Homo sapiens: one gene and its partner. The protein of the gene in region 2 interacts with the protein of the main gene of each other region in a biochemical or structural test. Each region holds a gene or a part of one and is shown on either strand. Other genes may lie near its edges. The genes, in order: EEF2 and EEF2KMT.

Region 1 (8,013 bases), on a different chromosome or scaffold from region 2:
TTCTTCATCATGTCCTCTACTTTCTTGGCCCGCTCGGCAGGCCCCAACTGGCCCTCCCCCTTGGCGGCGAACTTGGCCACATACATCTCGGCAAACTGCTTCAGGGTGAAGGCCCACCCGTGGAGGCCAGACCCAAAGCCCACGGTACCGAGGACAGGATCGATCTGGAAGTGTGAGAAACGAGAAGCAGCCGTGAGGGCCCCTGCGCAGAGCCTGAAGCTACGGGCTGGGCGCCTTGGGCATGGGCCTCAGACGCAGGCTTTCTTCAGTAGACATCTGGTCAAAGTGAAGAAATGATCAGTCATCACGAATAGGGGGGCCAGCCCCTCCACCACCCAGGGCAGCGTTCCCTGAGCTCGTCTCTTCCAGCTGCCCAAAGATCAAGGGCTGGGTCAAGTCGGATGAAAACATTCCAGCCCCCTTCTCTGTCACCCAACATTCCTGGCAAAAACACACTTCCAGTCCCCCTCAGCTCAACTCCACTCCCCACCGGCTCCTGCAGATCCCGCTGCGGCAAGCCCACCACCCAGCTAGGGAGGGCCGTACCATGATGTTGCCCATGGGGCCGCTCTCGCCCTCGCCGTAGGTGGAGATGATGACGTTCACGTTCTCCACGATGCGCTGGAAAGTCTGGTAGAGCTCCTCGGGCTCCAGCTGCAGCTCCAGCAGGGCGCGGTCCATCTTGTTCATCATCAGCACAGGCTTGATGCGCTCGGCAATGGCCTGCCGCAGCACTGTCTCCGTCTGCACGCACACGCCTGGGGACACGGGGGACAGGGCGGCGCTGTCATCCTCAAGCAAGGATGGCCCCCGGTTCCAGGCCGTGCCTCAGGGGGACCCACTGCTTACCTGACACGCAGTCCACCACCACCAATGCGCCATCGGTGACTCGGAGGGCAGCAGTCACCTCCGAGGAGAAGTCGACATGCCCGGGGGAGTCAATGAGGTTGATGAGGAAGCCGGCACCGTCCTTGCTCTGCTTGATGAAGTTCAAGTCATTCTCCGAGAGCTCGTAGAAGAGGGAGATGGCACTGATGGAGGGAGGGACTCGTCAGGGGGACAGGAGCCACACACCTGGCCCAGGGAGTCTGGGATGCTGTCAGAAGCCAGGCTGCTCCTCCCTCCATGACTCATCCCTGGAGAGGCTCCCACAAGAGCCAACCCACCCTTGTCCTTTGCCTCTGTCCGAGACATGCCACCCCCATGACAGGGAACTCCTGGTACCAGCCCCATAGCCAGATCCTCAGAGCCCTCCTGACCAGACATCCTGCCCCACCGACTTGGTCCCAAGATTCATCACACCTGACTCAAAGTAGCAACTAAAAGACCCAGCAGGACGGCAAAAGCCTCCAGAGACTCCGACCCTCCCCTCCTCACTTCTGCCCCTGCTCCAGGGGAAATGAAGAGCCTTAGCCAGAGTCCCTCACCAATGTACCAACCCAGGACAAAAAGCAGTTGGGGTCACCGTACTCTGCGCTCCCCCTACTCATATCGGGGCCAGAAACTGACATGGAATGAACATCATCCAGTGCAACACAGGAGCTTCCCAGCGTCCCAAGCACTAGAACACCCTCCCCTCCCAGGTGTGACAGCCAAACCTCTCCAGATATTGTAGGAGTGGGGGCAAGTCCCCCAGGGAGGGAGAACCACGGAGTTAAGCCCCCTCCTCAAGAAAACCTTCCAGCTCGCAGTACCCCGAATCCCTGTGCCTCTCCATCCTGTCTCGCTGGACTGAACCTCACTCATTCTCCCATGAATTAAGAAACCAGGGGAAAGAGACGTTGCCAAGTCTCTCCCCGCGCACCCTGGCCCAGTGGCCTCCAGCTGCCAGGCCAGCACCTCCCTGCCTGGGTACAGAGGGCACAGGGAGCTCACGTTGACTTGATGGTGATGCAACGCTCCTGCTCGTCCTTCCGGGTATCAGTGAAGCGTGTCTCCCCGGCCCGGGCCGAGGCGATGATGCCCGCCTTGCACACCAGGGAGTCTGTCAGCGTGGACTTGCCATGGTCCACGTGGGCGATGACAGACATGTTGCGGATGTTGGCCTTCTTGTCCATGATGGCGCGGATCTGGTCTACCGTGAAGTTCACCTGGGCAAGACAAGGAGGCTCAGACCAGCTCGTGATTTCCAGGAACACAGCATGGCACGGAGCGTTCAGTCCAAACGAACCAGCATGCCCAAGGCCAGGAGGGGGTTGGTGCTGGGGTGCCCCAAGCCCACCGAATCTTGCCAGCCTAACACCCCTTAAGAGCCACCCCGCAATCTCCAAGGAACCACCGTTAATAGGTGTCATTCATGATTGACAACCCAGAAATAAAAGTGCTCAGGAATAAAACTGAGTGTCAACAGATTTCCTTGATACCAGGTACAAATACTAAAGTCTCATTTGGGGCCAAACACGTAAGGGATGAATCCTCTCCTAAAGCCCCCTCCACGTTGTCACCGGGCCACCCAAACTTCCCCGAGCAAGAAGCTTCATCATAAAATGCAAGGTCACCCCTTGGCAAACGGGATCAGACAAGGCCACCCACCCCAGGAAATAACGGGGAGCCGGAACGGCCCTAACTGCCACAAGCCTACACCTCGTGTCTCAATAAGAGTCTTTGTACATCTGGGAGTCATAGGAAGGACAAGTGCCTAAGGTCGACGATTAACAGCATCAGGAGAAGGTATTTGGAAGGAAAAGGGGAGCCTTTCAGGTGTCGCTTTGCTCGTTCTGCCATTCCCTGCCGCCCCTAGTCCCCCGGCAGAAAATCGATCTCAAACTCGCGGCCCGCGGGTTACATAAGGCGCCTCCCTGTCTCCCCGCTTCCACCGCGGTGCCCGCCATTACTACGCCTGCCACATCATCATTCCCCACCCCCATCCCCGCTAACAACCCAGCTCCAACCAGGTCTGGGCAAGGTTATGGCGCCCTCGGAAACGGAGAAAGGGCTCGGTGAACAGCGCGGCGCACAGACATGGCGGCGGCCGCTTCCCCAGCCCCGGGTCCTCCGGCCCCGCCGCCGCTACGTCTCCTCCTGGCACGGGGGGCCCCAGCGTCCCAGGCTAGGCAGCGTAGGCCCCGCGGAGGCCCCGCCGCCGCTCCGGGGCACCAGCGAGGCAGGGTTACTCACCATGGTGGCGGATGGCGGTGGATTCTCCCAGGTAGAACCGAAAGAAGCGAGTCGCGCCGAGGATGGCGGCGACGACGGCGGAAGAGAACGCTGACGTCAACACTCAGCTTTTTATAGGCGGACGCCGGTTGGGCGGGTCATGTGACTGCGCTGCGAAGGCGGGGCGAAGGGACGCCGCGCAAGCGCACGGAGGCGTGTCCCCCCGCCCGTTAACCCATTCGGCGCCGGCGCGGCGCTCTAGAATAGAAGCTGGGCATCTCGGGGGCGGTGGTCGCCCTCGGTGTGCAGTGTTCAGGTGCACAAAGTAAAGAGCGCCGTTTTAGCTGAGAACGAGAACCATAGCAACGATATTAGCTTACAAGTTGTCCAGTACTTCTATTAAAACCAATTTACAAGGTGAATAGAGTCTGTGGATTATACCCAAGTCAATTTCCCTGTTTGGACATTGTTACGTAAGACGATACCCCTGGGAGAAGCCGAGGGAAAAAGGACACTCGCGACCACTATACTGTTTTTGCAACTCCTTACCTGTAATTATTTCTAAATAAAAACTTTATAAGAAGCAGGCATCGGAATCACTGATCCCACAAATGCATACTGAGCATCTATACACCAGGCATTGTTAGGGGTTTTGTAGATATAGCAGTGGACCAAACACCTTGCTAGCTTGACCACACTGCGTGTTCTTCTACCAGCTACTAGGATTTCTCTGTGCCTCAATTTCACCTGCTCGGAGGTGATCAATACCACCCTATTGTTTGGGGGAGAGTGAAACGAACTAAAGACATCTAAAAGAATTAGGACCGTGCCTGATACCCAACGCTCAATAAACGCTATCTATTTTAATTAGCTAAGATTGCTATTAATAAAACAGTTATTTATTTCAGGACTGGTTTGCCATGTCCCAGGCACCCGGCTAAGCGGTTTACTGGCACAATTTCATTTTCTATTTCATTTCCTCTCCAGGGGGAGGCGCAGGAAGACTGTTTAGCATTTGTGTCCTAATCTGACCCTAAGAAACAGTTGAATGTATTTCATATCTCATGAATTGGCATTCAATTGTGTAACTCTATCCCTTATGAAAAGCCCAACCCGCTGTTTAGCACATAGTAGGTACTCAGCATTTCTTGCATGAATGATGTTCTCACAGTGCAAATGAACCCCCTGCGGTACATCTTTCCTTAAACTCACTTTGTGAAACAGGAGAGCCACTGCAGTGCTTTTCCTGGGCTGGGAGAGGGGGAGGTGTGGATCCACAAAAAGCAATGCAAATTCCAGCCTGGACTCTAAAATAAACCTGTACACTCCTCCCCCTCACGAATGCTTCGGGCACTTTGCTTTACAAAGCGCTGTCTCAACCTTGGGTTTCATTTAACGGATGATTGCTCTTCCTATCACCATTTAACCCAGTGGAAAACTGAAAAGTATCTTCCGAAAGGATTGAGGCTCTGAAAGGCAGAGGGCGCGGCAGGGAGCAGATGGGAGCGCCCGGGGTCCCTAACCACCTACACCTGTACCTGTGACGCGTTTAGTTAAGTTGCAAGTCAAGCGCATGCGCCATTTGGGGCATGAGTTTTTAGCAGAGGGGTAGTCAGTTTCGCATTATTAATAATAAAATTCTTCAAAATTTTTAAATGCACTGAGCACCTGCTACGTGTTGCGTTTCCTATTGGGGGCTTCGCAGCCGTTTTTTCCGTGCAAAGTGGGAGCATTTCAGAGATGTAATGGAAAGGTTTTCATTAAAAGAGGTGTCAGGCGAGAGGCGGAGGTTGCAGTTAGCCGAGATCGCGCCACTGCTCTCCAGCCTGGCGACAGAGCGAGATTCCGTCTCAAAAAAATTTTTAAAAATTTTAAAAATTAAAGAGGGGTTAGGCTGCTTGCGGTGGATCACGCCTGTAATCCCAGCACTTTGGGAGGCCGAGGCAGGCAAATCACCTGAAGTCAGGAGTTCGAGACCAGCCTACCCAATATGGAGAAACCCCGTCTTTACTAAAAATAAAAAAATTAGCCCGGCGTGGTAGTGAACGCCTGAAATCCCAGCTACTTTGGAGGCTGAGGCAGGAGAACCGCTTGAACCCGAGAGGCAGAGGTTGCAGTGAGCCGAGATCACGGCACTGCATGCACTCCAGCCTGTGCGACTGAGAGTAAGACTCTGTCTCAAAAAAAAAAAAAAAAAAAAAGGAGGGGGGGCTGTTCACAGGTATCCCGGAACTTAATAAAAGAGGGGTTGAATTTCTTCTCAAGTGCATGGGTTGCTTATTGAAAAATTCTAACATCATGTAATTTAAAGAACTAGGGGGAGAGCTTAAGGGAAAAAGGGGAATTTTCAACCCCATAACTGCAGGGATGGAGCCAGGTGTTGGCAGGGAAGGATCTCTCCCACTGTCATCCCCACATCCATGAAGAGCAGAATCCTGGAGTACCACAAGCAGCCACAACCAGGTCAGCTGTAATAAGTACAATAATAAATATACGCTGGGTCTTTTAGGGTGGGGACCAATAAAAAAATTCACCTCTGCAGAGAAGCTCCGCTGCGCATGCGCCTGCTGCGGCGCCAGGAGAGCTCAGAGACCGCAGTAGCGGCCCCTGCTGACCGACAGTCGCCAGTGCAGGCCTCTCGACACTGCCTTTTTTTTTTTTTTTTTTTTTTTTTTTAAGACCAAGTCTCGCTCTGTTGCCACGCTGGAGTGCAGTGGTGCGGTCTCAGCTCACTGCAGCCTCCGCCACCCGATTCAAGCGATTCACCTGCCTCAGCCTCCCGATTAGCTGGGATTACAGGCGCCTGCCACCACACCCGGGTAATTTTTTTGTGTTTTTAGTAGAGACAGGGGTTTCACCATGTTGGCCGGGCTGGTCTTGAACCCCTGACCTCGTGATCTGCCCGCCTTGGCCTCCTAAAGCGCTGGGATTACAGGCGTGAGCCACCGCGCCCGGCCAACACTGTCTTTTAACAGTTTATTGAGCGTTTACTAGGACCTGACCTCACGGTCCTTTAAATCAAATACTTCAGCTAACCTACCCACACCCTGGGCTTCGGGTGGCCTCCTTTACGCCTGAGAAAATGGAGACTCAGATAAGTTAAGTCATTTGCCCACGTTCACAGAGCTAGTAAAGGTGCAGCCAAATCCGACTCAAGTAGTGGTTTAATCGGGAAGGAGCCCGGTCCTGCAACCGTTGTCTAGATGCATTTCAGATTTGGGAAAACGGGCCGGGCACGGTGGTTTATGCCTGTAATCCCAGCACTTTGGGAGGCAGAGGCAGGCGGATCATGAGCTCAGGAGATTGAGACCATCCTGGCCAACATGGCGAAACCTTGTCTCTACTAAAAATACAAAAAAATTAGCTGGGTGTGGTGGCACGTGCCTGTAATCCCAGCTACTCGGGAGGCTGAGGCACGAGAATCGCTTGAACCTAGGAGGTGGAGGTTGCAGCGAGCTGAGATTGTGCCACTGCACTCCAGCCTGGGTGACAGAGAGAGACTCCGTCTCAAAAAAAAAAAAAAAAAAAAAGGCCGGGCGCGGTGGGTCACGCCTGTAATCCCAGCACTTTGGGAGGCCGAGGCGGGCAGATCATGGGGTCAGGAGATCAAGACCATCCTGGCTAACATGGTGAAACCCCGTCTCTACTAAAAATACAAAAAATTAACCGGGCATGGTGGCAGGCGCCTGTAGTCCCAGCTACTCGGGAGGCTGAGGCAGGAGAATGGCGTGAACCTGGGAGGCGGAGCTTGCAGTGAGCCGAGATCGCGCCACTGCACTCCAGCCTGGGCGACAGAGCGAGACTCCATCTCAAAAAAAAAAAAAAAAAACAAAAAACGTGGTGGCTCACGCCTGTAATCCCAGCACTATGGGAGGCCAAGGCGGGCAGATCATGAGGTCAGGAGTTCGAGACCAGCCTGGCCAATATGATGAAACCCCATCTCTACTAAAAATACAAAAATTAGCTGGGCATGGTGGCAGACACCTGTAGTTCCAGCTACTCGAGAGACTGAGGCAGGAGAATTGCTGGAACCCGGGAGGTGGAGGTTGCAGTGAGCTGAGATGGCACCATTGCACTCTAGCCTGGGCAACAGACCAAGACTCTGTCTCAAAAAAAAAAAAAAAAAAAGTGGATTTTGTCTTTTAGATGATTAAACAAATGGGTTCAGGGAGGCCTGGTGAGTCTGTGTAGTAAGAACAGGCGCAATGGCTCACGCCTGTAGTCCCAGCACTTTGGGAGGCGGAGGTGCGTGAATCACTTGAGGTCAGGAGTTGGAGACCAGCCTGGCCAACATGACGAAACCCCATCTCTACTAAAAATACAAAAATTAGCCGGGCATGGTGGCAGGCGCCTGTGGCCCCAGCTACTCAAGAGGCTGAGGCAGGAGAATTGCTTGAACTCAGGAGGCCGAGGTTCCAGTGGGCAGAGATCACGACACTGCACTCCAGCCTGGGTGATAGTGGGAGACTCCACACCCTGAAAAGAAAGAAAAAAGGCCGGGCGCAGTGGCTCATGCCTGTAATCTCAGCACTTTGGGAGACCGAGGAGGGCGGATCACAATGTCAGGAGTTAAGACAACAGCCTGGCCAGCATGGTGAAGCCCCGTCTCTACTAAAAATACACAAATTAGCTGGGCATGGTGGCGCGCCTGTAGTCCCAGCTACTCGGGAGGCTAAGGTAGGAGAATCGCTTGTCCCCGGGAGGCAGAGGTTGCAATGCGCCTAGATCGCGCCACTGCACTCCAACCTGGACGACAGAGCGAGACTCCATCTCAAAAAAAAAAAAAAAAGAAAAAGAAGATAATTGAAACAATTACCCTCCCAGGTAGAAAGTCCCTGCTGATGGGGTGCATCTGTTCAGCAGCGGTGTTGAGAGCTCAAGCTCTTTTTAACGCTTTGCCTTGCTGTCTCCAAAGTA
Region 2 (4,012 bases):
GTGGGGAGGGTTCTGGAGACTGGCACCGAGCCAGGCTCCCTGATCCCTGCTTCCCACAGCCAGGGTGGGACCATGTGGGGTCTGGCGGAAAAGCTAGGGAGGGAGCAGAGGTCACAGAGGCTGGCCCACTCTGCTGTCCCGTTTCGGTACAGTAGGCTCGGGAAAGTTAAGACACACCCCCACCTGCCCTCTGGATTTATGGAGCTGACACTCCACAAATGATGCTGGAGCTGGGTGGGCCGGGCTGCGGTTGAGGAAGTGATCAGGATCACGTAGGTGGGCGGGCAAAGGGAGCTTCTGGGACCAGCCTTGAAAGATGGGTGGAATTCTGCAAAGGTTACTTGTTTCTTATTGCAAAAAGTAATACATCATTCTTGCCAACAGAATGATTGGCAGGATTTTCAGTAAAGGTCCAGGTCGGAAGTCGTTTAGACTGGGTTCCCCAGTCTCTGTCAGAACCATGGTACTCTGTTGGGGTGTGAAAGTAGCCACAGATCATCTGTAGATTAAGGGGTGTGGCTTTGTTCCAATAAAACTTTATTTACAAACACAGGCTGTGGGCTGGATTTGGCCTGCAGGCTGTAGTTTGTGATCCTTGATTCAGACAGTTTAGCAAGGCTGCAAAGAACACCGACACCCCCTTGTTACCCACAGATGGGTGAGACTGCGTTGGCCAGAGGCCGAGAGGAGGGTGCTCACAGGGGAATGGGCAGCACGTAGAGGCCGGGAGGTGCTCCAGGGCACCAAGTGTGGGAAAGTGGGACATGCGGGGAAGTTTCCAGAAACTGTGATGTCAAGTTGGAGGCGGAGTGCTGCTGGGGTGTGAAGGGTCTCGAGTCCAAGTGAGGGAGTTAGGGACTTGGGAGGGGTTGTTGTTGGGTCGGGGACCTGGGGTCAGCCAGGTGGTGACCTGGGATGGGGTGGGGACAGGCAATGAGGTAAGCTCTGCTCTTTATTTTTTTGCAGATGCTTTTCTCAAACTTTCCTGATCCTGCGGGCAAGCTAAACCAGTTCCGGAAGAACCTGCGGGAGTCGCAGCAGCTCCGATGGGATGAGAGCTGGGTGCAGACTGTGCTCCCTTTGGTTATGGACACATAACTCCTGGGCCAGAGGCTAAAACCCCAGGACCCCTGCTGTCCTTCCCGCAGCTTCTTCTTGGAGTCTCAGGGCAAACCCTTTCGAGCAGCACCTCCCAGTGGCCAGAAGCTGAAATGACAGCAGTGGTACTGCCTGGTAAAAGAATTGGTTCTGTGACCCGGGAAGCTTTGGTTGGCCTTGATTTCTTCTCTGGAGGCTTGGAAACGCTTCCTCTCTTCTTCTGTTCTTCACGCCCCATGCCCCTGCTAGCGTATTACTGTTCTGTGACTTCCCTGTGACCTCTGCAGAACTCCTCATCCTGCGTTTGGTCTCCAGGTGTCCCCTTTCTGCCGTGTTCCTAACATTTTGATTCCTGTCTTGAAAAAAGCACCTGCTGCACCGTAAGCCCAGGGATGTGGCAGCTGCAGTGGGCTTGGCTTTGTGAGGAACTGAGTGTGTCCACGTTGGGGGAACATCATACTTGATACACACGTTTTTATTTGCACAAAGAAAATGCTATTTTTGGAGCCAGAATTTTCATGTCTGATTTATGGTGATTTTCTTAAGAACCAGAACTGCTGGCAGAAAGGGGGCACCCACACGCTTAGATAGCCGATGTCTTATTAGAGGGCAGTTTGTGGTTCCTGATTTGGAAATTAACATTCTCCAAACATTCCAGTCCAATGAAAGTTTTATCCGCTTTCCCATATAAAAATTCTTCCCATGAGAGTGACTTGATTCTCACAATCCCGTTGGAGTCGTGTGTGAGTCCTACAGGGTGAGATTCAGCATTGCCATCTCCAAGTGCTCTTCGTAGGGAAACAGTTTCTGCTCATGACGAGGTTCCACTTCCCATCTGATCCCGGCCCGGCCTGGAAACAGAGCACATGTGTTTGAGGATGGCGGTGTTTGGGGACAGGACATGAGGGTATTGTGTGGGGCTGCTAGGACAGGCCTGGCGGGGTAGGGGGGTGTCCAAGTCAGTTTACTTGGTTCACAGGTTCCCAGGCCCACCCAGGTGCCTAGAATTGGCCTCCAGGATGGGACCAGAAAGCTGGTTTTGCATAGAAATGGCTAGCAGCAGGCACCGTGCCGCTGTCCACTCTCTGCCTGTGTCTGCCCCAGCACTTGGCACAGCGGGACAGAAGCAGAGATCTGAATAGTCAACCCACTCTTCACAAAGCTTAGAAAGCGGCCGGGCACAGTGGCTCATGCCTGTAATCCCAACACTTTGGGAGGCCAAGGCGGGCGGATCACTTGAGGTCAGGAGTTCGAGACCAGCCTGGCCAACATGGTGAAATCCCATCTCTACAAAAATACAGAAATTAGCCAGGCATGATGGCGAGTGCCTGTAATCCCAGCTACTTGGGAGGCTGAGGTGGGAGAATTGCTTGAACCCAGGAGGTGGAGGTTGCAGTGAGCTGAGATTGTGCCACTGCACTCCAGCCTGAGTGACAGGGTGAGACTAAGTCTCAAAAAAAAAAAAAAAAAACCACACGCACCACACACACACCCACACACACACACAGCTTAGAAGGGGCTGCTGTTCTCATAAGCACAGATGTCTGAAGAGCCGTTAGCCAGAATGATTCTTTTTTTTTGTTTTGAGATATGATCTTGTTCTGTCACCCAGGCTGGAGTGCAGTGGCACAGTCATTGCTCACTACAGCCTCGACTCCTGGGCTCTAGCAATCCTCCCACTTCCTGAGTAGCTGGGATGACAGGTGCGTGCCACCATGCCAGTAATTTTTTTATTTTGTAGAGATGGGGTCCTGAACGCATGGCCTCAAGTGATGCTCCTGCCTCAGCCTCTTTTATTATTTGTTTTTAGACGAAGTTTTACTCTGTTCCCCAGGCTGGAGTGCAGTGGCACAATCTCAGCTCACTGCAACGCCTCCCAGGTTCAAGTGATTCTCCTGCCTCAGTCTCCCGAGTAGCTTTGACTATAGGCGTGCACCACCACGCCTGGCTAATTTTTGTGTTTTTAGTAGAGATGGGGTTTCACCATGTGGGCCAGGCTGGTCTTGAACTCGACCTCCCGTGATCTGCTCACCTCAGCCTCCCAAAGCCTCAGCCTCTTACAGTGTTGGGATTACAGGCGTGAGACACTGTGACCCGGGACGATTTTCAATCACAGTTTTTTGTTACGAGTGGAAAATGCGTATTTATAAGAATGAAGTAGTACAGACATGAATGTGTAGAAATCTCTATAATCCTGCCATCCAAGGATGGCACCTGTTAATGTGTATATCAGGGATGTCCAATCTTTTGGCCTCCCTGTGCCACACTGGAAGAAGAAGAATCGCCTTGGGCCACGCATAAAATACACTAACACTAGCAATACCTGATGAGCTAAAAGAAAAAAAATCACAAAAAAACCTCGTACTGTTTGAAGAAAGTTTACAGATTTGCGTTGGGCCGCAAGTTGGACAAGACTGCTATATGTATATTCTAGGTTTTCCCCTATAGGTATACTTATGTGAAAATGATTATTGTGATAAATTTTGTTTTGAGATGAAGTCTCGCTATGTTGCTCAAGGTGGCCACAAACTCCTGGGCTTAAGCCATCCTCCCGCGTCAGCCTCCTGAGGAGTTGGGAATATAGGTACTCATAACCATGTGTGGGTGATTATTATTAGTTTTTAAACAAAAATGGGGTTGGGCGCAGTAGCTCACGCCCGTATTCCTAACACTTTGGGAGGCTGAGGCGGCAGATCACTTGAGGTCAGGAGTTCAAGACCAGCCTGGCCAACATGGCGAAACCTCAACTCTACAAACAATACAAAAAATAGCCAGGTGTGGTAGCACGTGCCTGTAGTCCCAGCTACTCAGGAGGCTGAGATGGGAGGATAGCTTGAACCTGGGAGGTGGGAGGTTGCAGTGGGCCGAGATGGCACCACTGCACTCCAGCCTGGGCAATACAAAGCCAGACTCT

Evidence for each region.
Region 1: of the proteins of EEF2KMT (region 2) and EEF2, one has a biochemical effect on the other in vitro, tested with the Homo sapiens proteins (one study listed by BioGRID).

The regions. Positions count from the first base shown.
Region 1 is NC_000019.10:3,982,261-3,990,273, forward strand, and holds the start of EEF2 (elongation factor 2), read right to left. Parts: upstream 3,204-8,013; 5' UTR 3,121-3,203; coding exon 3,118-3,120; intron 2,091-3,117; coding exon 1,876-2,090; intron 1,032-1,875; coding exon 850-1,031; intron 759-849; coding exon 547-758; intron 313-546; exon of another isoform or gene 247-312; intron 165-246; coding exon 1-164. UniProt on the Homo sapiens protein: Catalyzes the GTP-dependent ribosomal translocation step during translation elongation.
Region 2 is NC_000016.10:5,083,784-5,087,795, forward strand, and holds the end of EEF2KMT (protein-lysine N-methyltransferase EEF2KMT), read right to left. Parts: intron 3,597-4,012; exon of another isoform or gene 1,950-3,596; coding exon 1,849-1,949; 3' UTR 1,099-1,848; coding exon of another isoform or gene 967-1,098; 3' UTR 501-966; downstream 1-500. Other genes in the region: ALG1 (chitobiosyldiphosphodolichol beta-mannosyltransferase), read left to right, coding at 967-1,098. UniProt on the Homo sapiens protein: Catalyzes the trimethylation of eukaryotic elongation factor 2 (EEF2) on 'Lys-525'.